7 linked regions of the Homo sapiens genome follow. The protein of the gene in region 3 purifies or fractionates together with the protein of the main gene of each other region. This does not show direct contact. Each region holds a gene or a part of one and is shown on either strand. Other genes may lie near its edges.

Region 1 (3,500 bases), on a different chromosome or scaffold from region 3:
CTTTGAGAAAGACTAAGGTTTTATCCATAACTAGAAAAAAACTGGAAAAAAACCCAAATGTTCATCAAAAGGTTAATGAATATCAAAATGTGGCTGATCTATACCACAGGAATAATATTCAGCAGCAAAAATACATTATTGATACATGGAATACATTATTGATATGCAAAAATATGGATGGATCTCAGACTAATTATTTTGAGGCTGGGTGCGGTAGCTTACTCCTATAATCCCAGCACTTCGGGAGGCCGAGGTGGGTGGATCACTTGAAGCCAGGAGTTCGAGACCAGCCTTGCCAAAATGGTGAAACCTCGTCTCTATTAAAAACACAAAAATTAGCCAGGCATGGTGGTGCACACCTGTAATCCCAGCTACTTGGGAGGCTGAGGCACGAGAATCGCTTGAACCTGAGAGGTGGAGGTTGCAGTGAGCTGAGATCGTGCCACTGCACTCTAGCCTTGGTGACACAGCGAGACTCTGTCTCAAAAAAAAAAAATTATTTTGAGTAAAATAAGCCCATCCCAAAAGAGATTTATGTGAAAATAATTTATATAAAATTCCAGAAGATGCCAAAAATAATAAAGCTTCAATGACCTGTGGAAGAGTATTACAATCAAATCATATGTATTTGGAGTCCAAGAAGAAGGGGAAGGAGAGAGAGTGGGAGATAAAAATATTTGAAGAAATAATGGCTGAAATGTTCCACATTTGATCAAAAACATCAACCCACAGCTACAGGAAGCACAGTGAATCTAAAGCAGGATAAATACAAAAAACCCACAGCTGGGCATATCACAGTCAAACCACTAAGAACCAAACATAAAGAGAGAAATCGTAAGTCAGCTAGAAAAACATACTGCACCACCTACAGGGAAATGACAATTTAAAAAAATTTTTTTTAATTTTTTATTTTTTTTTTGAGATGGAGTCTTGCTCTATCACCCAGGCCGGAGTGCAGTGGCACGATCTTGGCTCACTGCAACCTCCGCCTTTCCAGTTCAAGTGATTCTCCTGCCTCAGCCTCCCGAGTAGCTAGGATTACAGGCGCACACCGCCATGCCCAGCTAATTTTTTTGTATTTTAGTAGAGACGGGGTTTCACCGTGTTGCCCATGCTGGTTGTGAACTCCTGAGCTCAGGCAATCCGCCCGCCTTGGCCTCCCAAAGTGCTGGGATTACAGGCATGAGCCACAGTGCCCAGCTTCACACTGCATTTTCTAAATGAATAAAATAAAGCACAGAGAGGTTGAGCAATTTGCCCAAGCCACACAGCCATCAAGAGGCCGAATTGGGATCTGAACCTCAGGATTGCCTGATCTGAACTCTCTAAGGTTCTGTGATTTTTATTTCATCCTCAGGCTGCCAGATGCTTGGTATTATTGCCATTTTCCAGATGGGCGAACTGAAGCTGAGATGGAAAAAGCAACTTGCCTGAGGTACCCCGTGAATCAGCAGAAGTGAGATGAGTTATTTGATTTAATTCTCATAAGCAATCTCTGGGGTACTGAAGGTATTCGTATATTTTGTCATCCAAAAACCAGGGCAGCTCTGAAAGTAAAAGTGGGTGCTACGAGGAATTATGCTGTGGCAAGAGGCATGAATCAGGACAGAGGGATGTCCTATTTTACAGAGGCCCAGAGCAAAGAAGGGTCTTGCTTCCTGGTCCACTACAACTGCCTAGTTGAGCCGTGACAGCACGGATTACTGGTTCCTCACAACGACCATGGGAAGCGTAGATGGACTTGCTGATTCCCCGGCTGGGTGAACTGAGGTGCCCCACCTGGTCAAACTTGCGCTGCTTCTTCTCCAGGGTGCTCACAAGCTGCCGCTGCTGCTCCAGGTCCATGGTGGCGTCGTCCAGCTCCTGCTGCAGCCGGCGGCGGCCCCGCTCCAGCCGATCCACGGTCTCTGTCTTTTCTGCCAGGCGCTGGGTCAGGGCCTCGGCCTCCCGGGCTGCCCGGCGCCGTGCCTCCTCCCCTGCCTCCAGTGCCCCTGCCTCCTCCTCCTGGCGCCGCCGCCACTCGGAAAGCTGAGGGGAGGAGAGAGAGGGTGGTTGGTGGTCACGGCCATGAGTGACCAAGGTGTAAGCTGGTGGTGCTCCATTTCCAGGATGAAGAGACTGAGGCCTGAAGAGGGAAAGGGGTCATTCTGCTGGGCTCTTCTGCCTCTGAGTGGTGTGAAGTTGTGAATACTATGAGCCCTAGTTCTTCCAGGGAATTAAAATTACTCCCTCCAAGATGCAGAGGTGAATCAGACCTGGAGTCTTTCCTGGGGAGCCCCTCGGCTGCTGGGGGAGACACAGAGTCACAGCCAGGGTGATAGGGGTTAAGGTAGCAGTATGGGAGCTATGGAGGTCCACAGGAAGTGCCCAGAATCTGTTTAGAACATTCAGGAGAAACTTCCTGAAGGAGGAGCATTTGAGATGGGTCTTGAAGTATGCATAGAAGTCTGCCAGTTGAAGGATATCTGCAGGCACGTACCATCACTCATTCATTCAATAGGCATTTCTCAACGCCTACCATACATCAGGCCCTATATCAGGCTGTGCTACAGACCTGGATCTAACTCTGATGGGATTCTAGTTTGAAGGGGCTCTCAGTCTGGTGGGGAGACTCATGGGCAGAGACAGTCCCAGCCCAAGGTGACTGGAGTTGGGACAGAGGAGAAAGAGAAGACGGGTCAGGAAACTTCCCACAGGGGAGCCTAATGCTAAGTCTGGAAAAATAAAAGGTTTTTTTCAAATAAAATAGGAAAGTAGAGATAGAGATGAATACAGCTAAAGGCAGAGGAAGGACCAGAGATTGCAGGGCCTCAATGCCTGACTGAGAGGCATGGACTTTGTCTAGGAGTACTGGGGAGGCGTGGGAGAGCTGTGAGCAGAGGAGGGACAGGGTCAGCTCCAGGTAAAGAAAGAAGCTTCTGGGGCTGTGCAGGGGATGAGCTGTTAGGGGAGAGGCTGGAGGCCCAGAGGCCAAGAGGAGGATCTAGATGGGAGAGGACGGCACTGGAGCTGGGGCTGAGCTGGAGCTGGGACAAGGGATGAGGCTGAGAGTCAGGGGTCAGGACAGCCAGGGCTGGGCATGGGCTGTGGGGGGTAAGGGGGAGTCAGAGATGAGAAAGGCACCCATGGGTCTGGCCTATGAGAAGGTGGGCAGCATGGCCATCCCTGAGCTGGGGAACCCAGGAGGAGCAGTGAGGGGGGCTGTGCCTCCCTGAAGGTCTTACGTAGGGCTGCTCACCTGGGCCTGGGCAGTCTGCAGTTCACGGCCCGCCCGTTCCCTGGCAGCTGCCTCCTCCTCCAGCTGCTCACGCAGCCCGGCTGCCTCAGCCTCCATGGCTCGCACCCGGGACCCCAAGGCCAATTTCGCCCTGGTCTCCTCCTGCAGCAGCTCCTGTAGATGGAGGAGACGGCAATGTCAGGTGTGGCTGGGAGGACAAGGAGGGGAGGGTGACGGTGGAGCCGAAGGGCAGGCAGGGTCACCTGGGCATCGTGCAGCTGGG
Region 2 (2,646 bases), on a different chromosome or scaffold from region 3:
CAGTTGCACCCCGCACCCCTGATTTCATCTAGACTGTGCCTGTATCTGGGAGGTTTTACGGAGACTAGTGGGAACGATGGGGGATCAATGCAGCCATGCTGGAGTGGGACTTCTCTGACCTACCCACCACCCATATGTGGGAGGACCTCTGGGAAACCAGTGACGTCCCAGGCAGAAAGCCAGCCAGTTCTTGGCACAAGAGTGCCCAGAAACGTAAAGATGGATAAATTCATTATTTCAGCAAACCTGCATTGAATCTGAAAAGTCTGGGAATAAAACTCGGGAAAGAGCAAATGCATCCTCAAAGCACTCTAGGGTCCAGCGTTTTTCCAGCTGGACTTCGCGGTGGCTCCACTTTCCCTCCTCCATCCCCTCCTCCCGCCCCTGCCTTTTCCTACCCTATCCAGCTGCAGAGAGGTTCTAGCCATGTGTGTCCCAGCTGCTGTCCACGCCCATGCCTGGCACGTTTGCTGAGGGAAAAAACTCAGGCACACACAGGCTGCCGCCCACTCAGACTTTATTCAAAGACCACGGGGGTACGGGTGCAGGAAGGGGAGGAGGGGCTGGGGGGAGGCCCAAGGGGCAAGAAGCATGGCCACCGAGGCTCCAGCTTAACGGTATTTGGAGGTCAGCACGGTGCTCACAGAAGCCAGGAACTTGTCCAGGGAGGCGTGCACCGCAGGGGTGAACTCGGCGGGGAGGTGGGCGGCCAGGGTCACCAGCAGGCAGTGGCTTAGGAGCTGTGCAGAGAAGAGGGTCAGTGGGGCCGAGGGCCCAGGCCCGCAGCCGCCGCCTGCGCTACACCTCCCGCAACCCGCGTGATCCTCTGCCCTGCGAGGAAGGCGCCATCTCGCCCCTCGACCCAGATCGCTCCCGGCCCGCCGCTCACCTTGAAGTTGACCGGGTCCACCCGAAGCTTGTGCGCGTGCAGGTCGCTCAGGGCGGACAGCGCGTTGGGCATGTCGTCCACGTGCGCCACGGCGTTGGTCAGCGCGTCGGCCACCTTCTTGCCGTGGCCCTTAACCTGGGCAGAGCCGTGGCTCAGGTCGAAGTGCGGGAAGTAGGTCTTGGTGGTGGGGAAGGACAGGAACATCCTGCGGGGAGAAGCAGAGTGAGGGGTGGGGTTTGGGTCCGGGGCCAGGACGGTTGAGGGTGGCCTGTGGGTCCGGGCGGGCGAGGAGCCCGGGTCGGAGCAGGGGAGGGAGCCTCACCTCTCCAGGGCCTCCGCACCATACTCGCCAGCGTGCGCGCCGACCTTACCCCAGGCGGCCTTGACGTTGGTCTTGTCGGCAGGAGACAGCACCATGGTGGGTTCTCTCTGAGTCTGTGGGGACCAGAAGAGTGCCGGGCCGCGAGCGCGCCAGGGTTTATGCTTGGGGCGCGGGGGCACGCCCGGCCGGGCGGCGCTCATTGGCTGGCGCGGAGCCCGGGGCGCGGCCTGGACCGCAGGGGAGTCCCGGGCGGGGCCTGCGCGGGGCCGGGCGGCGGGCTCGGCCTCCCCTGGGGGTGCACGCGGGGCGGGGGCCAGGACGTCTCCACCCTCCACCCGCCACTCCACTCCCGCCCATCCCGCTCGCCCGGGGGCAGGGCGGTAGCGGCGCTGGCGGGGCCGGCCCGTTGGGGTCGGGCGCTGTCGGCTCGTGCACCCCGGAGCGCAGCGCCACCCTTTCCTTTCGGGCGCCGGAGCGTCCCTAGCGAGGGAGAAAGTCAGCCCGCACCCCCGCCCCGGCCTGGCACGCGCTGGACGCGCATCGACTCCAGCGGGATCGGGGAACACACGGGCGAGCGAGTGCGAGCCGGGAGGCTTCGCCCAATCCTGGGGCGGAGAGGAATGCGCGCACCCGGACGCCCTGGCCCATAGGAACTCAAAAGAATTTCTGCGCAGAGCCCCTCCTGCTCTCCAGCCTCGCTTCCTGCAGCTCCCTTTCCCTCTGGCGATAGTCACTAGTGTGCTTGAGTGACAGGCACCGGGAAGGAATAAACACCAGGACGCAAAAAGCACGGGGCTGGGCTGGGGGCGGCTCCAGATTCAGACTCCTCTACCCGGGGTTGTGGGGTGGCGCGTGGGGTGGTGGGTGCTGGCTAAGCCCCAAGTCATGGACTCACAGTTTGTGTGACTGACTCTCCCACTGGCCTAGAGGTCGTGGTTCACTGTGACACCCCCAGCTCTCCAAATGCTATCTGATGGAAGACTTGCTAGGTAAATACTGGTTAAACAGGTAAACAAAGCAATAGCTGGAACCGGCTGGAGCATTCAACCTCCTCTGGGAGGTAGGCAGTCCTCTAACCATCACACAAGTACACACAGAGGTGCAGACCTCATCACAGGCCCTGAGGAAGTCTGGAGGTGTGGACGAGGCATTCAAGGTGACCAGGGTTAGTCTGAGGGCTTCCTGGAGGAGGTGAGACTTAAGGATATGTATTAGGTGGAGGAGGTGGAGGAGGGAGGAGGCTTGGCTCGGGGAGGGGAAAGGACAGAGGAGACAAGGGCCCTGTGGTTGGAGAATGGAGGTGGGGAGATGTTGGGGTGATGAGGCTGGCCAGCTCCTGCAGGGTGAGGAAGGAAGGGGTGGACTTCTGGGGAAGGGTGGGAGGTGCAGGAGTGCCAGTGGGTGCATCCCTGTGCATGAAAAGTGATGTTTTTTG
Region 3 (3,132 bases):
TTTAAACACCCATTTTTAGAATCGACCTCCTCTGCAAAACCCCAAAGGCTTACTAGGTATTATGCAGGTCCTTAGTTGCAGAAAATTAATTTTGAGGTTGGAAATAAGTTTTAAAATATATTCCATTAACATTGTTTTTCTTGACTTGAACTGCTTTTATTATGCAGTTTTTTTACACTTAAATAATGTGATCTTTTCATACAGAAGTTCCTAATGCATTTTTAAGCTAATTCATAATAAAATTTCTTCATCGATGCACACATTTTCACAAACTAAAAAATGTCACTCAGAAAAAGTGAATCCAACCAGGATTAAGTCTTTTGGGTCTCCTAAACCAAGGAACCCCTGTAGACAGAAGCATGCCCAACTTGCATGCAGGAGACCTGCCTTGGCCTTTACTCTTGCAGTAGTTCTCACCCCTTGGCTAAGGGAGAGGAACCATGGTGAAAAGCATGGCTACAAGCTTCTTACTGGAAAAAATCTATCTTATATATGCATTTTCTAGGACTACCGACACCCACCGAAGAGCTCGGCAAAGAGGAGCATGTGTGTGTTGGGCGTCTCCTGGGTGCTTGTGTGTGAGAAGAGGCTGGAACGCCCCCGGCAGAACACACCAGGCCTGGCTCAGCCTTGGGCCTGGTTGCTCTGTGTTTAGGAATCATCCTAGTTAAAAGATTCGCTTTCACCCTTCTTTGGTTTCATTCTGAGGAAGCAGCACCTTCCAGACTGTGAATTCGGTAAGCGCCTGGAGCCTGCGTTTTATTGTAAGACTCGACGGGTGAACGTGCTGACCCACGTCAGCTGTTGCGTCCCTGGTGTGCCTGTGGTTTCTAGGACCTTGTCTGGCACTGTCGGGTGTCTTCTGCTTCCAGCCTGCCCCAGAAGTACAGTCTCTGACTTAGGACACCTGTGTGGGCATCAGTGCCCTTCTTGAGCCTCTCCTCTTCCCTCTCTGGAACAGTCTATGGGCATCTCCCCACTAGGACTTCCTGCCCACCATCCAGACACACAAGCCCTCCCCCTCCACTGGCTGCCTGGCTATGCAGCAGGTACTGGGGACACCTGGGAATCTTTCCTTTTCTTGGCAGTTGAAGCTTCCTAGTTTGTGCCGAAGAGGGTCTGTCTGGACAGCTGTACTTGCCAGAATTCTGTATCTGAAGAGGTTATTGCTACATGAGTTTCGTTTGCTGAACTCAGAATATGGTAGTTTTAGGTCCAAATTTTGTGTGTGCTAAGAATTAAATTTATATTATATTTTTGTGAATTGCTCACAAAAAGGGAGCAATTCAACCTATTTTTATTTTAGCTAAACCAAGTATTCCCCAGAAGAACACTAATGGAATCTAATCATTCTTATGGATTTGTCCACATGCTTGTAATTATGAGTGGCTCAACTTGATGTGATTTCAGTAGCACTTAAAGTTCATTAGCTTAGATAGTCTCTGGCTGGAGGAGGGTTGGAGGGCAGACGCATCCCCCACTGACCAGGAACTCTCACATAGTGAGCATGTGTCTCAGGGACATCCCAACTTCTGTTCCTTCTGCCTTTCCAAAGAATGCCTTGGAAATTTTTCTGTTTCAATAGTTTTTTTTGGAAAAAGAATTTTCCTGTTTCAAGAGGTGATTTTGAACTACAGAAAGGCTGAAGACATCTACCTACAATTGTATCATGAGGTACATCATAAGCAGTCAGAAATTAGCCACTAGACAAATTCCTTTTCTTTCTGAAGAAAGTCTTCATAACGTGAATTTGCTATTTGAAGTGAAATTCCCAAAGTAGACACAACAAAATATAACTAAAATGACCAAATTTATGTCTTAGCATAATGCTCCTTCCATTAATGTAACTGGGAGCTGGCAGAGTGCTGTTGAAGATAATGCTTTTTGTTTGCCTTTGCAACCTTGGGCAAAAAATACATCAAAACATTCTGTGTCTTTTAAAACAGGGAAACAGTAAATGGCTTACCTTCTTTGGATTTTCTGCACACCTCTTGACACTCCGCGTTACTCTCTGCACAGATTTGCTCTCCAAAGTGCTTGCTGCAGGCTGGCTTTTTGTCTTTCTTGATCTCAGGCACATGGAGTCTGAATTTCCTGCTTCTCCTTTCCCTTTCTGATTCTGCATGAGAACCTTCGCACTCTTCTGCCCTCCGCTCTCCTCTGCCACCTTAGGCTGGGAGCTCTCATTCTGTCTAGCAGACCTCAAGCACCTTTTGTTCTCAGTGACTTTGTCTCTAGGTATGGGTTTCCGGGCTCCATCATCTGGATTCTGAATGTCCATCTCTGGGGAGGTCTTCATGGGCTTCTTTTCATTTCTGTTTATTTCTATTCTTTCTGCTAATACAAAGACCTCAGTTATTTGCTGTTCTGCCTCAGTCTTATTTTGGCGTCTGGAGCGCAGGGATATTCCCTAAAGAAATGAGAAGACATCCACAAAATTCCAATAATTAGTAAAACAAACTTCAAAATTCAACAGGGAGCACAATCAACAGTAACCTAAAAGGAGAAATCATTTGAAAATCACACACTGATGAATTGTCTAAGAGACTTGTCATCTAGGATAGTCAAGGTAATGCCTTGGTACTTTGCTCCTATGGAGAAATGACTGTCTCTGCTGACAAATTATAAATAAGGAATTCAGGATAAATTTCAATAACAATGCCTAATAAGATATATATCAAATCTAATTTTTACAGTTTACATTATAGAAAGAAGGTCCGTTATTCATTCATTTACAGGGAGTAAATGAATTCCTATTCCTTTAACCATCACTGCTAAGGCAGAACAGGAAATTGCCATTTCTGGAGTTTCCCCAAACTTCTCTGCATGCAGTGGGAGCCTCTCTATCTAACAGTCCAGACAGTTTCCCCTTCTCAAGAATACACATTCCTTATTGATATTGTTCTGATAGTTAAAATAGTGACATAGATAGGATTTTTAACCCAGTCCTGGTCTTGGTGACAGTATCCAGAACATAGAACTGAACCACCCACCTATCCTCTGATCAATTTTTTAAACATTTGAAGATGAACATTACTCATTTGGCTTTTGAGAAACTCTTCTAAGTTTGCATTAATCATGTTTGACTAGTTCTTTTCCCATATTAGTCTATTCCCTCTATAGGTCCCAAGA
Region 4 (3,500 bases), on a different chromosome or scaffold from region 3:
CAGCAACCTCTCAAGTTTCCAAGAAACATCTTCTTAGGAATAATAAAACTACTATCCAATAATGAAAATGTGCTCTACTTCATTTGGCACTGAAAACGAATAACAGGAAAATCAAACCACTTTCAGAAAAGAAAAAAATCAACCAAAGAAAAGGCTGGACCCAAAGGGAGTAAGGTGTCCGAGGAACAGACTCAGCCTCCCTCTCCTGCAGGAGCCGGCATGTCCACAGCCATGGGCCGTTCCCCATCTCCCAAGACCTCATTGTCAGCTCCACCCAACAGTTCTTCAACTGAGGTACACTCTTCCTGGTCCCATTTTGCTTTGTTTTTTTCAACCCAAAGTAAAGGACTGATTTCACCGGTTACTTAAAAATTGCATCGATAATTTGCTAGTTAATCCAATGTACATATTGAGAAACCACTACATTTTGATCTTTTGCTTTCACAGGGATACTTGATGAACTTGACATTATCTCTGACTGCAGGAAGTTTTCTGTTCTGTGTTGTTTGGGGAAGGGAGAGAGAGCTATGCAGTACAGAACTGTCAGCTGTGGGCTCACTGTCTACTGCTCCCATGTCCTTCATACCTCTTCCCTTGGTTCACTATAGTATTCCATGTCAGACCTCTCCAGCACCTGCTAGTTTGTGAATGAGGTTATCCATACCCTCAGCTCTTTTTCTTGTAGATTAAACAACCTCCCCTGCATTAAAACTGTTCTATCGCAGTTTAAGGAGACTGGGATGTTAAAGAGTAAAGATGTTAAAGAAAACCCTTTCTGAGCCCCAGGTTTCTGTTAGCATGCTACCTGCTAGAGCCCTGACACTGAGAAAGGCTATGGTGGTGGGAATGACACTCTGTAGAGTTTCTGCAGCCTGAACCTACTGAGATGATGGCATTCTGAGGGGTTTATCCTACTTGTGTTCTCACCTGCTGTAAGCAAACTGAATCTTGGGTAGGAACACTATGAAATGTGCTCTTTAAATTGCCCTGTCTACACTGGTGATAACTGAACACTCTTTGTGTCTATAGTTTGTGGTGGGCACCATTTTTCATTTTTTTTTTATTTTTATTTTTTTTTAGTATTTATTGATCATTTTAAATGTCATTTAACTTTGTCTATTTTTAGGCTCTGGCACTTTAAGCTGGTAAGAGAAATAGTATAAGAAATTATTTCATTCTAAAATTTATTTATTTATTTATTGTTGTTGTTGTTGTTGTTGAGACAGAGTCTCGCTCTGTCACCCAGGCTGAAGTGCCGTGGCATAATCTCGGCTCACTGCAGCCTCCACCTCCCGGGTTCAAGTGATTCTCCTGCCTCAGCCTCCCAGGTAGCTGGGATTACAAGCGCCTGCCACTACACTCAGCTGATTTTTGTACTTTTAGTAGTGCCAGGGTTTCACCATGTTGGCCAGGCTGGTCTCAAACTCCTGATCTCAGGTGATCCACCCGCCTCGGCGTTTCAAAGTGCTGAGATTACAGGTGTGAGCCACCGCGCCTGGCCCTAAAATTTATTAAGTTACTTCATGACACTGGCTTTCAGTATCCACTGGTCTTATGTTGCTCTTATGCTTTATTTCTTAAGGTTGATTCTGTTTACAGAAAGGTCATCTTTTCACTATATGGTCTCCTCTGTTACTTCATCTTGCTATTGTACCAGTTTAAGATATCTTCTGCCCTGGCTCGCAATCCCTCTCTATCCTGACTCCAGCTCTAAACATCTGTGCAAGTTTTGGGGCCCTGTGTTATACTGAGGTCACTGAATAGCAGTTCTGTATTTCTCAATTAGACATTTTTCTTTGTTCTCCTGTGCTATCATACACAGAACCCGAAAACAGTGGCCAAATGTCAGGTAACTCCCAGAAGAAATGTTCTCCAAAAACGCCCAGTGATAGTGAAGGTACTGAGTACAACAAAGCCATTTGAATATGAGACCCCAGAAATGGAGAAAAAAATAATGTTTCATGCTACAGTGGCTACACAGACACAGTTCTTCCATGTGAAGGTTTTAAACACCAGCTTGAAGGAGAAATTCAATGGAAAGAAAATCATCATCATATCAGATTATTTGGAATATGATAGTCTCCTAGAGGTCAATGAAGAATCTACTGTATCTGAAGCTGGTCCTAACCAAACGTTTGAGGTTCCAAATAAAATCATCAACAGAGCAAAGGAAACTCTGAAGATTGATATTCTTCACAAACAAGCTTCAGGAAATATTGTATATGGGGTATTTATGCTACATAAGGTAAGTCCTCAAAATTGTTTCGTTTCATTTTTCCACCAACACCTGAAATTAAAAGTCTTGATGTGTGAGATGAAGCTTTGCCTATAAACTGGATATTAGAATCCAGGACTCTGAAGACTAATGACAGGTGGATAAAGACTTCTCTGAAGATAAGACTGGGATTAGGGGACCTGTTAATATTTCTTTCCCATGTTCTCCTTCCCAGAGCATTAAACTGTAGTCTTTACAATAATGTTCACTGAGAAACCTTAAGACTTTATCAGTTGTTATTATCTATGCTAAGTGATCAAGGACATTGTGAGGTCTACATCCATACACACATGATACTAAGTTTATCCCTTTGATTATTATCTCTACTGTCATAAAAATCACATTATTTTTATTTTGAATGAAGTATTGTCCTCTGAGGCTTGAGTTCTGGTTGTGACAGTCAGAATAAGAAATAAATTGACTACTCATGGCTGGAAAACAAATGCAGAAAGTAGGTAGGACAATGTTCTGACCAAATGAAACTAATTCATCATAAAGAAATGGAACAATTGGGAAATACGAATTTGGATGATACTTGGAAAATCAGGTAATCTAAATTTGTCATTTATATATAAATAACAAAAAAAAAAAATAGAGTACAGAGTGCTTTTCCTGATATGTTCCTGTCCAAATTCATAACCAGTTAGCATGAGACATTCCACCCCGCAAAAAAGCATCTATCCTCTGCTATTGATTCAAGCAATTTATCTGATCAATACTTCATTACCCATTATATTTGTTTCCTAGAACAACTCATTAACCTGCGTTACTTTCTGTACACAGTCTTTTTTTTTTTTTTGAGACGGAGTCTCTGTCGCCCAGGTTGGAGCGCAGTGGCGCGATCTCGGCTCACTGCAACCTTCGCCTCCTGGGTTCAGGCGATTCTCCTGCCTCAGCTTCCCAAGTAGCTGGGACTACAGGCGTGTGCCATCACGCCTGGCTAAATTTTTTGTATTTTTAGTAGAGACGGGGTTTCACTATGTTAGCCAGGATGGTCTTGGTCTCCTGACCTCGTGATCTGCCCACCTCGGCCTCCCAAAGTGCTGGGATTACAGGCATGAGCCATTGCGCATGGCCTATATACACACTCTTAAAGAGATGATTCTTACAAATCCAGTTCTAGGATGATGAGTAATGAGCAAAAAGCTGGAATGTTTGAGCTCAAGGACTTGGTTTCAGGAGGGGGTACAAATATTGGAAGAGACTCAGTAAATGCAGAAAGTAG
Region 5 (3,500 bases), on a different chromosome or scaffold from region 3:
GCCATATTCTAGTTGCACTGTACCATAATCAAGTTGGTCTGTATTTGGTTCTGACTTGCAAATGAGCTGCAATGAACCGGTCTTGGACCGAGAGCTTCGGGTGTTCTCTGTATCACGATGGCGAGAAACAGATGTCCTACTACTACGCCAGCCCCGGCTAGGTCTAGATGCAGCAATGGAAACTTCCTGAGGGAGGGCAGAATCGTCTTCTTCCTCTTTTTCTTCCTTGGGATCTAAATAAAAAGACATACCATTCTCTTTAAGTTTACAGTTAACCAATAACCATCCCTGTATATCTACTAATTGTAAATACAGTTGAAGATAAATTAAATATTTTCAAAGGAAAAAAAACTGAAGACTTTAATTGAAATAATAAAAAAAGGAAAATGAGATAAAACTTATCCTTAATGTCATCATGCTAAAGAAATTACTTCATGTTGCAAAGTAGTAATTTTATACTGCCTTATCTTCTAAAAAATGCAATGCTAACTATGCAAAATACACTTAAGTAACTGGATTCATGAAATTCTACCTTTTAGATCTAAGTTAAAAGAAACTAAATTAATTAGTCCCAAAAAGATGACCAGAACTACAGAGGCACCAAAAAGAAAGAACCATAGATCTAGATGTTATTTACAACCAAACAAGTCTATAACAAATTACTAAAGAGGAATTCCTAACAGGAGTACTTTTCACTCTAATCAAGAGTTTTTCTTGGAACCACACCATAAATTTGAACTAATCTATAGAGCAATTGAATGGTAAAGTCCAGCTCTGGTGCTATTCTGTTTCAGTTGTCCTATAAGACATTGTGTACAGGAGCACACACAAATCTGTTATTGTTATCCTATATTTTGTCATGTTTTAAGGGTGAAGTACGGTAGGTCATCCTCTCTTGAGTAGTAAGTAATAAAAAGTTAATCTCAGAAACTGGCTTTCATACCTGGCGTAGCTAAATACTTAGACCTATATAAAAAAAAAGTACATTAGAATTGAGCCCATTTTAACAATAGAAGATTCTTTAATAAACTCAGAACGGGAAAGGCCCAATAATAAAACAAAATTTCAGGTCATAAGATACACATAAAAACAATTTTCCTCATGGCAAAAATCAACCATAAACAAAGTCTAATAACCCAATAGAAAAATAGGAACTAACAGGCCGGGCTCAGTGGCTCACACCTGTAATCCCAGCACTTTGAGTGGCCAAGGCGGGCAGATCAAAAGGTCAGGCGTTTGTGACCAGCCTGGCCAACGTGGTGAAACCCCGTCTCTACCAAAAATACAAAAGGTAGCCAGGCGTCGTGGTGCCTAACTGCAATCCCAGCTACTGGGGAGGCTGAGGCAGGAGAATCACTTGAACCCGGGAGGTGGAGGTTGCAGTGAGCTGAGACTGCGCCACTGCACTCCAGCCTCGGCGAAAGAGCAAGACTCCATTCCAAAAAAAGAAAAAACAAAAAACAAAAGCTCAAAGCTCAATCCACTCAGAACAAGAGACTCAAATGAAAACGATAGCATGACACCATTTTTCATGTATCATATTGGGGATGATCATATTTGACAACATAATGTATTGTCAAGACTGTGGGAAAACAGGTCCTCTAACACACATATGATAATGTATTAGCAAAACCTCCATGCAGACCAATTTGACAATATACATCAAAATTATAAATGTATATACCTTTCCACATGATGTTCAACTACTAGAAATTTATCCTACAAAATTACAATCATATTTATAAATGATTAACATATAGCACTGTTTTTAAGTAGTAGAAGAGTAGAAAACAACATTCAAAGAGGGATTGGTTTCACAAATAATTGTGTACATATGTAAGAGAGAGATATATATGTAAGATATATATACACACAAATATATAACTTATGAAACCAATCCCCCTTTGAATGTTTAGTTGTCTACTCTTCTACTACTTAAAAACAGTGCTACACATTAGTCATTACAGTATGTGTGTGTGTGTGTATATATATATATCTTACATACTATAATAACATTTCTGGAAGAAGTACAAGAAATTCTTAAGTACTGGTTACTTCCAAGGTAGGTCCAAAAATATGTGTAGTAATTTCACCTTTAAGTATATGCCCTAGAAATATAAACTACCACATGGAGGTTAACTGTATTATGTTTATAATAGCAAAGAACAGAAACAACCTAACCCTCTGTCAAAGATAAAGTGCTTAAATAAACCATGATACCTTAGTATGATTGAATACTATATAGAGGTAGGTTTATGTTAAAAATGACATGGAATTATCAGCAAAAATATTGTTAAATGTATAAAAAAGACACAAAACTATATATACAGTATGGCAACATTTTTGCTTAACATTAAAAAATAGTTTACTATGGAGCAATGTGGTGACTATAGGCTATTTTAGCTTTAATTACACTGAAAGTTTTATGACAATATACTGAAGTAATGAAATTAGTTTGAAACACAGAGATAAATAGCAGTGCGAACAGTTCTAAACAACCATCAAAATCAGTTGTGCATTTCCTTTCAGCTGTCTTTTTCCATTCATTATTGCATCACCCTCCTATCTGAGCTATTTTAATAGAAAAAATAAAAAATAAAACATTAATATAGGTGAAAATACCTCAAAGGCCATTCAGTCTAAGCACAATCCATTACGTTTTACCCATAAAGTATCTGGAAGCCCAAAAAAGAAGCTTATTCAAAATCACAAGGTTAGCTAAGGACACCTAGATTTAGAAATCATATTTTGAGATTAATAATGAAGGACTTTTACATATAGGTCATGACTACTTTTAAAACAATTTCATCAAAAAGAACAATTCAACACCACCTATGAAGTATTACAACATTTAATAATAGACACATCTTTTTTTTCCTTAACCCAACTGTACCGAGTTGGACTTTGAACTCACTCCATAACCTCCTGTCCTCAACAAAGCTCCTTTCTTCTTCATGATGAAAGGATGGTATGCCCACAACCTCCTATACTGTAGATTTTACTCACTGGATAAATGATGCCAATTTGATAACAATAGTTTACCATTATGAATAAGGCATAATAGCCTATCTTATTGAATACTACTGCTCCCGTCCCCTAAAAATCTAGTCTTAAAAAAAAACCACTCTGTCAGAGATGACAGCAAAAATGTCCCTCCACAGAAATAAACACATATCATGAACAAACACTGTCAGAATCAACTTTGTGGAAACTCTTAACAATAGTTAAAGGTTATAAAAGCCAAGTGAGCACTGAATCAAGAAAAAGGTGAGTAAAGATGTTTAAGGAAATCTGTCAAATCACTTGATGAATATAAGCGAAAGGACCAGAACCTTTAGAGACCACAGAGACCAAAGTAGGAGCTAAACATTAGGTACTCATGGACATAAAGATGGCAACAACAGAAACTGGAGATTATTGGGGGGAGGTTGAAAAACTATTGGGTACTATGCTCAGTACCTGCATGATGGGATCATTTGTATCCTAAATTTCATATCATA
Region 6 (3,500 bases), on a different chromosome or scaffold from region 3:
TGTGATTATCACTGTATTTGGTTTCACTACTCACGTCCCCTATCACTTCAGAGCCAGGCTCTGCTCAAGAACAGAATGTACTCTGCTTATAGCTATTCACACCCTAAGAGTCCAGATGGTTAAGAACCTACAGACACCCAGGTCCATCCTACATCTCGGCCAAGCTCCCAAGAAATCTAGTCCATGCCACGGCCACTTGGGTCCCACCACTGTGCCTATGACACCTCACCTTTGTGAGACACATCCTTCAGCAACCTGGCTTCGGACTGCACCACATTCCTGTTGCTGAGGAAGATCAGTCGACGGAAGTATCGCTTGTCATCCCCTTGCACATCCTCAATGACATAGTCACCGCTCAAGGGGCTGCAGTCTTGGTGCTGAACGGTCCGGACCCCAATGTCCCCACCCACAGACAGAAAGGGGACCTGAAGGTACAACCAGAGATGTGGTCAAAACAGCAGCTCATTTAAGAAATAAGAGAAATTATAACCCCTTCCCTTTTGTGTGTATATATCCCCATACCACGGTTCTAGACAACAACTACTCCACAGATTTGCCATTCTATTAAAGTACTTTTCTGGAGCCTTTGAACTGATCTCAAAGGTTTAATTCATCTTTTGAAAATCAACTGGACACATAAAGATCTCCCAAACAACTAGTGAGATGCAGCTGATTCTCCCCAAGTTCTTTTAGGGGTTTTTCTCATCAGTAACCCCTAAAAGAACTCTCAATAGTCCAGGATAACAAAAGCTAGAGGGAACCCTCAGGAAGGGGCTGTGATTATGAGAAGGAATCTACACAAGAATAAAGATAACAAAATCCATGGGAGAAACAACCACTCCAAATCTAGAGAGATATTCCTTTCCCCTGATTATTCTCATCTATTTTTCCCCCACTTTTCTGAACCTTAGGAGAAAAATATACTTTCCCCCTAAACTTTCCCACTCCTTCCCCCTATCTTTATTTCTTTTTTTAAAGACCTATAAGACTAGTTAATAATCACCAATATCTCCTGACCCTGCAGACTCAGGCACTGGTGAGAGGCCACAAATGAAGCTCCTCAGAGGATCTGGGCTTCCTTGAAATAGGGGTCATCAACCCCAAAGTTGGCCAGGAAGAATCAAACTTACATTCATCTGTAAACACGAGTCAGCCTAGTGGGCAAAACCACAGGCCAGGAACCCAGGAGCCTGGGTTCTTTTTTTTCAGATCTGTTACTATTTGCACCAAGCCTCTAGATACCTTTGCTTTCCCACCTATCAAGAAGGATCAAAGCTTGGGCAACATAGGGAGACCCTGTCTCTACAAAAAATGTAAAAAAAAAACTAGCCAGGTATGGTGGCTTGCACCTATAGTCCCAGCTACTACCAAAGGCTGAGGTGGGAGGATGGTTTGAACCCAGGAGGTTGAGGCTGAGGCTGCAGTGAGCCGTGATCACACCACTGAACTCCAGTCCAGCCTGGGCAACAGAGCAAGACCCTATCTCAAAAAAGAAAAAAAAGGATCAACTCCTCATCATGAAGTTCTTTTAGTAAAATCACTTGTTCGTTACCCATGGTGACCAGGATAGCACAAGACAGTTGGTGTTAACTGATAATACCATATCACCACTTAGGCAAAAACCTTCGGTTTCCTTCCCAGTAAAACACCTGACCAGCAATGTGAATACCTGGATAACTGTGCTGAGCTGTTTTGGCCCTCTTCCATTTATACCCTCAGATAATGATAGTTCTAAGAAGCAAAATGACCAAGAAAGTCCAGTGTGGAAGGAGAAATCCACAGTCAGAGCAACTCAAATTAGGAAGAACTGAAGCCCGCAATGAGTAGAGCATTTCCATCCTGCCATGTCTATGGACTCTGAGAGGCTCCCCCAGACACAGACGCTACTGTGCTCACTTTCCTCTCATTGCCTGGGGCAAAGGACAGTTTCCCTGCCATTTAACCCTTAGCTGCTGATACCCCTCCAGGATTAGATGAAGAGTCACAGACTCTAGTCCTAGCTCCTGCCAAGGCTCCCTCTGCCTCCCTGGCTGCTAACATGACTTCAGAGACCCATGAAAGCCGTACGAAAGCTTTGTTACCTGCTGCTGGGTGGGCATCCCAGCTGGGGCCAGCTCCATGACTCTAGCCGACAGCTCAGCTTGGATGTGGTCCATGCTTTCATACTGCTGACCTCGGTGAAGGGCCACTGTAATCAACCTCCTGAAGCCAGCACTGGCCGCCAGCTGTTTCCGGCCCTCATCCATGCCAAAGAGCCACTCGGTCTCCCGGCCCTGAGGGACTAGAAAAAAGAACTTGGTTACAGGGAGTCCTGGAAAGTGATCAAGCCCACAACCAATATGGCCCAAACGGCAGGGAGCCAGTCCCTGTCCAAGACCAGCATCTTCCCCAACTGTGACCCACTGAGGAGCTAACAATTCTCTAGTTCACAACATCTAGGGCAAAGCAGCCCATCAGACATAAGGCAGGACCAAGGGTGGAGAAGAAGTGTGGGCATGTCCGTAGGGGAAGGAGGCAGACACCTACCACAAGAAAAACAGCAGTAATGCCAACACAAATAAGCCATGCCAGGCATGACTCCAAGCTGTTGACAAATATATATTAATGGAATCCTCCAACAGTCCAAGATGCAGGTAGTAGTATTATTCCCATTTTTACATATGAGGAAACTGAGAAACAGAAGTTACACTATTTGCCCAACTTCGCACAATAAGTAAATGGTGAAGCTGGGACTCAAACCCAGGCAGTCTAGCCCCAGACTCTACCCACGCTTGTATTCACTGCACTATTTATTTCCACACATGGACAGACAGAATTATAGAATACTTGAAAAACTAGCTCAGTCACCAGGAAACAAATTACCGTAACACCAAGACCATAAACACTTTGCATTTGTCTACAATGTTCCACTTTTGAAAGCACTTCCTCCTACTATCTTTTTTATCCTTATTAAGATAAATCTGATATAACTTACTGCTTTCAGTAATAATGGCTAACATTTACACAGCACTTCCAAGGCCAGGTACCATTTCTAAGAGCTTTTATACTTCTCACAACTACACCAGAGTTACAATCCCATCAAGGCAGAGAAAGAAAAGTAACCTGTCTAATGTCACACCATCAGGAAATGACTGAGCCAAAACTGAAACCCAAACAGTCTGGTTCCAGAGCTCACTTTTTTAGCTGCTACCCTATGCTGCCTCTCCAAATTTTGCAGAGAAGCACAGCAACTTCCCCAGGTCCTGCAGCTCACAGGCTACAGCTGGGACTAGAACCTATGTCTTAGACTTGCTAGTCCAGCATTACTTCCATTACTCCATGCTACAAAGTAACTAGCATCTCTATATCATATGTGACCTCCTAAATTTATCTCTATTCTCTCTCTTCCCTACCAACCCCATTCTCACACTTCATCAAGCCTTTGCAATGGCAGATGAAAAGGAATAGGTCTCAACTCCAAGTAGGTTGCTAGAGAGCTATTACTCTCCTTTCATCATGCC
Region 7 (3,500 bases), on a different chromosome or scaffold from region 3:
ATTCTGCCTACACAAGGCTAAAAGTACCAGGAAGAAAACTGGACAAAAACACATGGTACCCTATATGCTAACCAGCTAACAAGCAAGGAAAACTGGTTTCTAACACAGTGGTTTCAAACTTAAGGGACAGTCAAATACCTAGCACAACCCATTATACTGGCTTTCCCTTTTAAATCTCCACAGGCTGGTCAATCACTTAACTGGTAAAATCAATTTACAGCATGACTCTCCCATCTCCACATTTGCAAAGAGAAAGGTATATGCAACTAGCATCCAGCAATGAAAGAAACGGGGTGGGGAGGGTAAAAGTACCCATTCTGAGACAAATAACTGAACTCAATGATTCTCTTACTGGTTCAATGACTAAACACAAAAAGCCCAAAGACAGTCCTGAAGCCACCACAACCACAAAGGATATTACAAAATTATGAGTCCAGATGAGTGGCTGTCAGGGCTTAGGCATGGGGGAAGCATGGAAAAACAAAAGGCTAGTATATAAGGGAGGGTTTGGGGGATGACGAAACTGTTCTGTATCCTAACTGATAGGGTGGTTACACAAATCTACATATGTTAAAATTCATAGAGCTGTACGCCCCCGCCAAAAGTGAATTTTATTGTATGATTTAAAAATATACATATTTTAAGTATACACAAATTCTTATAGGAGCCTTATTTACATTACCCCCAAAAGGAAAACATCCCAAATATCCTTCAAAGGATGAATGGAATAGACACAATGGTCATCCATCCATGTAATAGAAAACTACCTAGTAATAAAAAGGAACAAAGAATTGAGTTACACAACGACATAGATGAATTGCAAAGATACCATGCTGAGTGAAAGATAAACATCTTAAAAGATCATATAGTACATAATTTCAATTATGACAATATGGAAAATGTCTTATAGGGACAAACAACCAATCAGTGGTTCAGTAATGAGAGGGAGAGAGAGGGCTTGACTATAAACTGGCTGGTCAAGGAAATTTACAATTTTATTATATTTAATTTTTTTTAGAAGAAAAAAGATATAAAGTTTCTAAAAACATTAAGTACAGAAAGCAGACATAAGTTTTAAACACAGTCTTTTGTGCTCAATAAAATCAAGATGAATTCTAGGATCAAGGGATTCCATTAAGAAAACAGAGTTAAGAGGGGGAGCTGAATGTGATAATAGAAGCAAACAAATACTATCAGTGAAGAATGCAAAACCTCACAAATCACAGAAACAGCACAAATAAAATACACTGAAAAATATGTGAGCAGGAAAATTCAAATCCTCCAAATGAAGAGAAAAAGAATAAAGAACCAACAGAACTCAAGGGCAAAGATTCAACATATTTGTTGACATTAATAGAAAAAAGTGGCCTGCAGACAAAGGATTACAGAAAACAATATTCATATTGTACACGTTTTCACATTTACATTCATAATGTAAAAATAAAGAAAAATCTTTTGTGCACACACCAAAAAAACAGCTATTTACAAACAAAAAATGTAGGCTGGCCTCAGAATTTTCCATAATATAAAACCACATAACTGTAAAGCAAGGCTTATACATAGTACTTTAAGTGAAAAGGCTGTTGACTAGAAAGAATTCTATACCCAGCTAAATGGTTGCTTACATATTCTGACCAAAGACATTTTATGGATCTAAAGGCTTGCTAATAAATAATAAGTTAAACAAGGTTCAAAATAGAGCTGTCAAAGGTGGGTTAGGCATTAAAAAGGGTGGCAGCAACGTGACAAAAGAAAAACTTCAGCTGAATTAAATTTAAAGGAGATTAACTGAGCAATGAATGTGATTCACGAATCACAGAGCCAGCCAGAGTAGGCTCTGACATTCAAGCACAGCCCTGTGGTGGAAGTTTTATAGACAGAAAAAGGAAAAGTGATATACAGAAAACGGAAGTGAGATAAACAGCTGGATTGATTACAGGTTGGTATTTGCCTTATTTGAACAGTTGGCTACATTTGATTCAGCCAAAATTTGGTCACTGGCACAAGAGTAGGCTGCGGTCTGTTTATACCTCCACTTGTTATAGTTCGCCATGTACAGAAAAACCTTTAGGCTGGACTTAAAATATGTAAGGAGGCGGCTTTAGGATAAACTTTATTTAACAAAACAATGAAACAATATAAGGGTAATATTAAAGTTTAAATCACTGTTGTGTATATGGCTACAATATATATAATAATACAGCTACAATATATACCTGTCATTAAAAATTTCCTGAAACAACTACATAATATTAACATACCAAATACATTATAACAAAACCAGGATTAAATTTTCAAGTTTGGTAGAAAAAAAAAAAGACACAGAAGGGTGATTATCTCCTCAGTGGTGGGCGAAAGAAAAGTTGGTATTTCCTTGCCATGTATCCTTTGTCCTAAGTAATCTCATCCCACTTCCATGCTATTAACTGTTTAAGAACAAAAGGTCCCCAAATCTGTGACTCGGACATCTAACTGCCTAATCAGAGATTTTGCTGCCTATATTTCTCAAAGGTATCTTAAAATCAGCACAATCTAAAAATGAAGTCTTAACTTGCATCCCACCTTTCATACCTCAAATCATTTCTCCTGATGCGCTACTTGTAATGGCAGTTACAATATGACCACTTTACTTAACTGCTAAACTGAAAGACTCAGTAGCTACTTTTGATCCCATTTCTCTCATTTCTCATATTTAAGTGGGAGAAAACACAATTATATTCAGCAACCCATCTAAAAGGTTCAGCAGAGCCTTAAAGTCATTTGTATTAATTACTCCAAAGCAAAGTTTCCAACAATCCAACACAGCAATCAATAACTAGCACCAGAATCACCTGGAATGTTTATACTTAAAAAGTACACTGCAAGTTCCTTTATCAAATATACCAAGGGATGGGTCTCGAGAATCTGCAATTTCAATAAACACCCCAATTAACACTTATGTGACTTAAGGTTTGGAAACTACTGCTCTAGGGTCATTATTCCAACACCTTCCCTCTGAGGAATGTTGAAGCACTTCCCTGTGCTGCACACAACCACAAAGACAAGATATTCAGCTTCACACACAGAAACAATCACTGATTTTACATAGAGTTAAGTTACCTCTTTATCTTAATTTCTACATAGGAACAAGCATTCCATAAGAACATGCTTTCCATAGTAACAAGCATTATTTACTGGAGGAGCTTCTAACTTTACCCCTACTAAGTTTCAAAAGAAATTTAAATGTATCCCCTATAGAAAAGCCCATCCATTTTCTCTTTCCACCTAAAAATAGGACCCCAATTTTACGTTACAGTTTGGAAGAGAAAACTTTCCCTAGTTGAACTGACTCTTGTGGCCCTGTGATCAAAGTCTAGCCAATATTTGGGGGGCTAATCCCCATATGGGCCACTCAATAGGATATTTTTAAAAAATAAAAATAAAAATATTCTGGCCAATATAATACAAGGATAAACAGCATGTTTTATTTCAGGAATGTCTCCCTCAATCTTACAGAGGGT

What was found.
Region 1: the proteins of MKI67 (region 3) and MYH14 purify together in Homo sapiens (affinity purification with mass spectrometry; one large-scale study listed by BioGRID and IntAct). This does not show direct contact.
Region 2: the proteins of MKI67 (region 3) and HBA1 purify together in Homo sapiens (affinity purification with mass spectrometry, with the first as the bait; one large-scale study listed by BioGRID). This does not show direct contact.
Region 4: the proteins of MKI67 (region 3) and IFI16 purify together in Homo sapiens (affinity purification with mass spectrometry; 3 studies listed by BioGRID and IntAct, with this or other methods). This does not show direct contact.
Region 5: the proteins of MKI67 (region 3) and ZFP91 purify together in Homo sapiens (affinity purification with mass spectrometry; one large-scale study listed by BioGRID and IntAct). This does not show direct contact.
Region 6: the proteins of MKI67 (region 3) and METTL13 purify together in Homo sapiens (affinity purification with mass spectrometry; one large-scale study listed by BioGRID and IntAct). This does not show direct contact.
Region 7: the proteins of MKI67 (region 3) and YTHDF3 purify together in Homo sapiens (affinity purification with mass spectrometry; one large-scale study listed by BioGRID and IntAct). This does not show direct contact.

The regions. Positions count from the first base shown.
Region 1 is NC_000019.10:50,280,122-50,283,621, reverse strand, and holds part of MYH14 (myosin-14), read right to left. Parts: coding exon 3,481-3,500; intron 3,392-3,480; coding exon 3,239-3,391; intron 2,029-3,238; coding exon 1,780-2,028; intron 1-1,779. UniProt on the Homo sapiens protein: Cellular myosin that appears to play a role in cytokinesis, cell shape, and specialized functions such as secretion and capping.
Region 2 is NC_000016.10:175,377-178,022, reverse strand, and holds HBA1 (hemoglobin subunit alpha), read right to left. Parts: upstream 1,344-2,646; 5' UTR 1,307-1,343; coding exon 1,212-1,306; intron 1,095-1,211; coding exon 890-1,094; intron 741-889; coding exon 612-740; 3' UTR 501-611; downstream 1-500. UniProt on the Homo sapiens protein: Involved in oxygen transport from the lung to the various peripheral tissues.
Region 3 is NC_000010.11:128,099,292-128,102,423, forward strand, and holds part of MKI67 (proliferation marker protein Ki-67), read right to left. Parts: intron 2,411-3,132; coding exon 1,967-2,410; intron 1-1,966. UniProt on the Homo sapiens protein: Protein that associates with the surface of mitotic chromosomes and acts both as a chromosome repellent during early mitosis and chromosome attractant during late mitosis.
Region 4 is NC_000001.11:159,016,407-159,019,906, forward strand, and holds part of IFI16 (gamma-interferon-inducible protein 16), read left to right. Parts: intron 1-126; coding exon 127-294; intron 295-1,822; coding exon 1,823-2,245; intron 2,246-3,500.
Region 5 is NC_000011.10:58,606,563-58,610,062, reverse strand, and holds part of ZFP91 (E3 ubiquitin-protein ligase ZFP91), read right to left. Parts: intron 234-3,500; coding exon 24-233; intron 1-23. UniProt on the Homo sapiens protein: Atypical E3 ubiquitin-protein ligase that mediates 'Lys-63'-linked ubiquitination of MAP3K14/NIK, leading to stabilize and activate MAP3K14/NIK. It thereby acts as an activator of the non-canonical NF-kappa-B2/NFKB2 pathway.
Region 6 is NC_000001.11:171,784,660-171,788,159, reverse strand, and holds part of METTL13 (eEF1A lysine and N-terminal methyltransferase), read right to left. Parts: intron 2,282-3,500; coding exon 2,082-2,281; intron 426-2,081; coding exon 230-425; intron 1-229. UniProt on the Homo sapiens protein: Dual methyltransferase that catalyzes methylation of elongation factor 1-alpha (EEF1A1 and EEF1A2) at two different positions, and is therefore involved in the regulation of mRNA translation.
Region 7 is NC_000008.11:63,189,121-63,192,620, reverse strand, and holds part of YTHDF3 (YTH domain-containing family protein 3), read right to left. Parts: intron 1-3,500. UniProt on the Homo sapiens protein: Specifically recognizes and binds N6-methyladenosine (m6A)-containing RNAs, and regulates their stability. M6A is a modification present at internal sites of mRNAs and some non-coding RNAs and plays a role in mRNA stability and processing.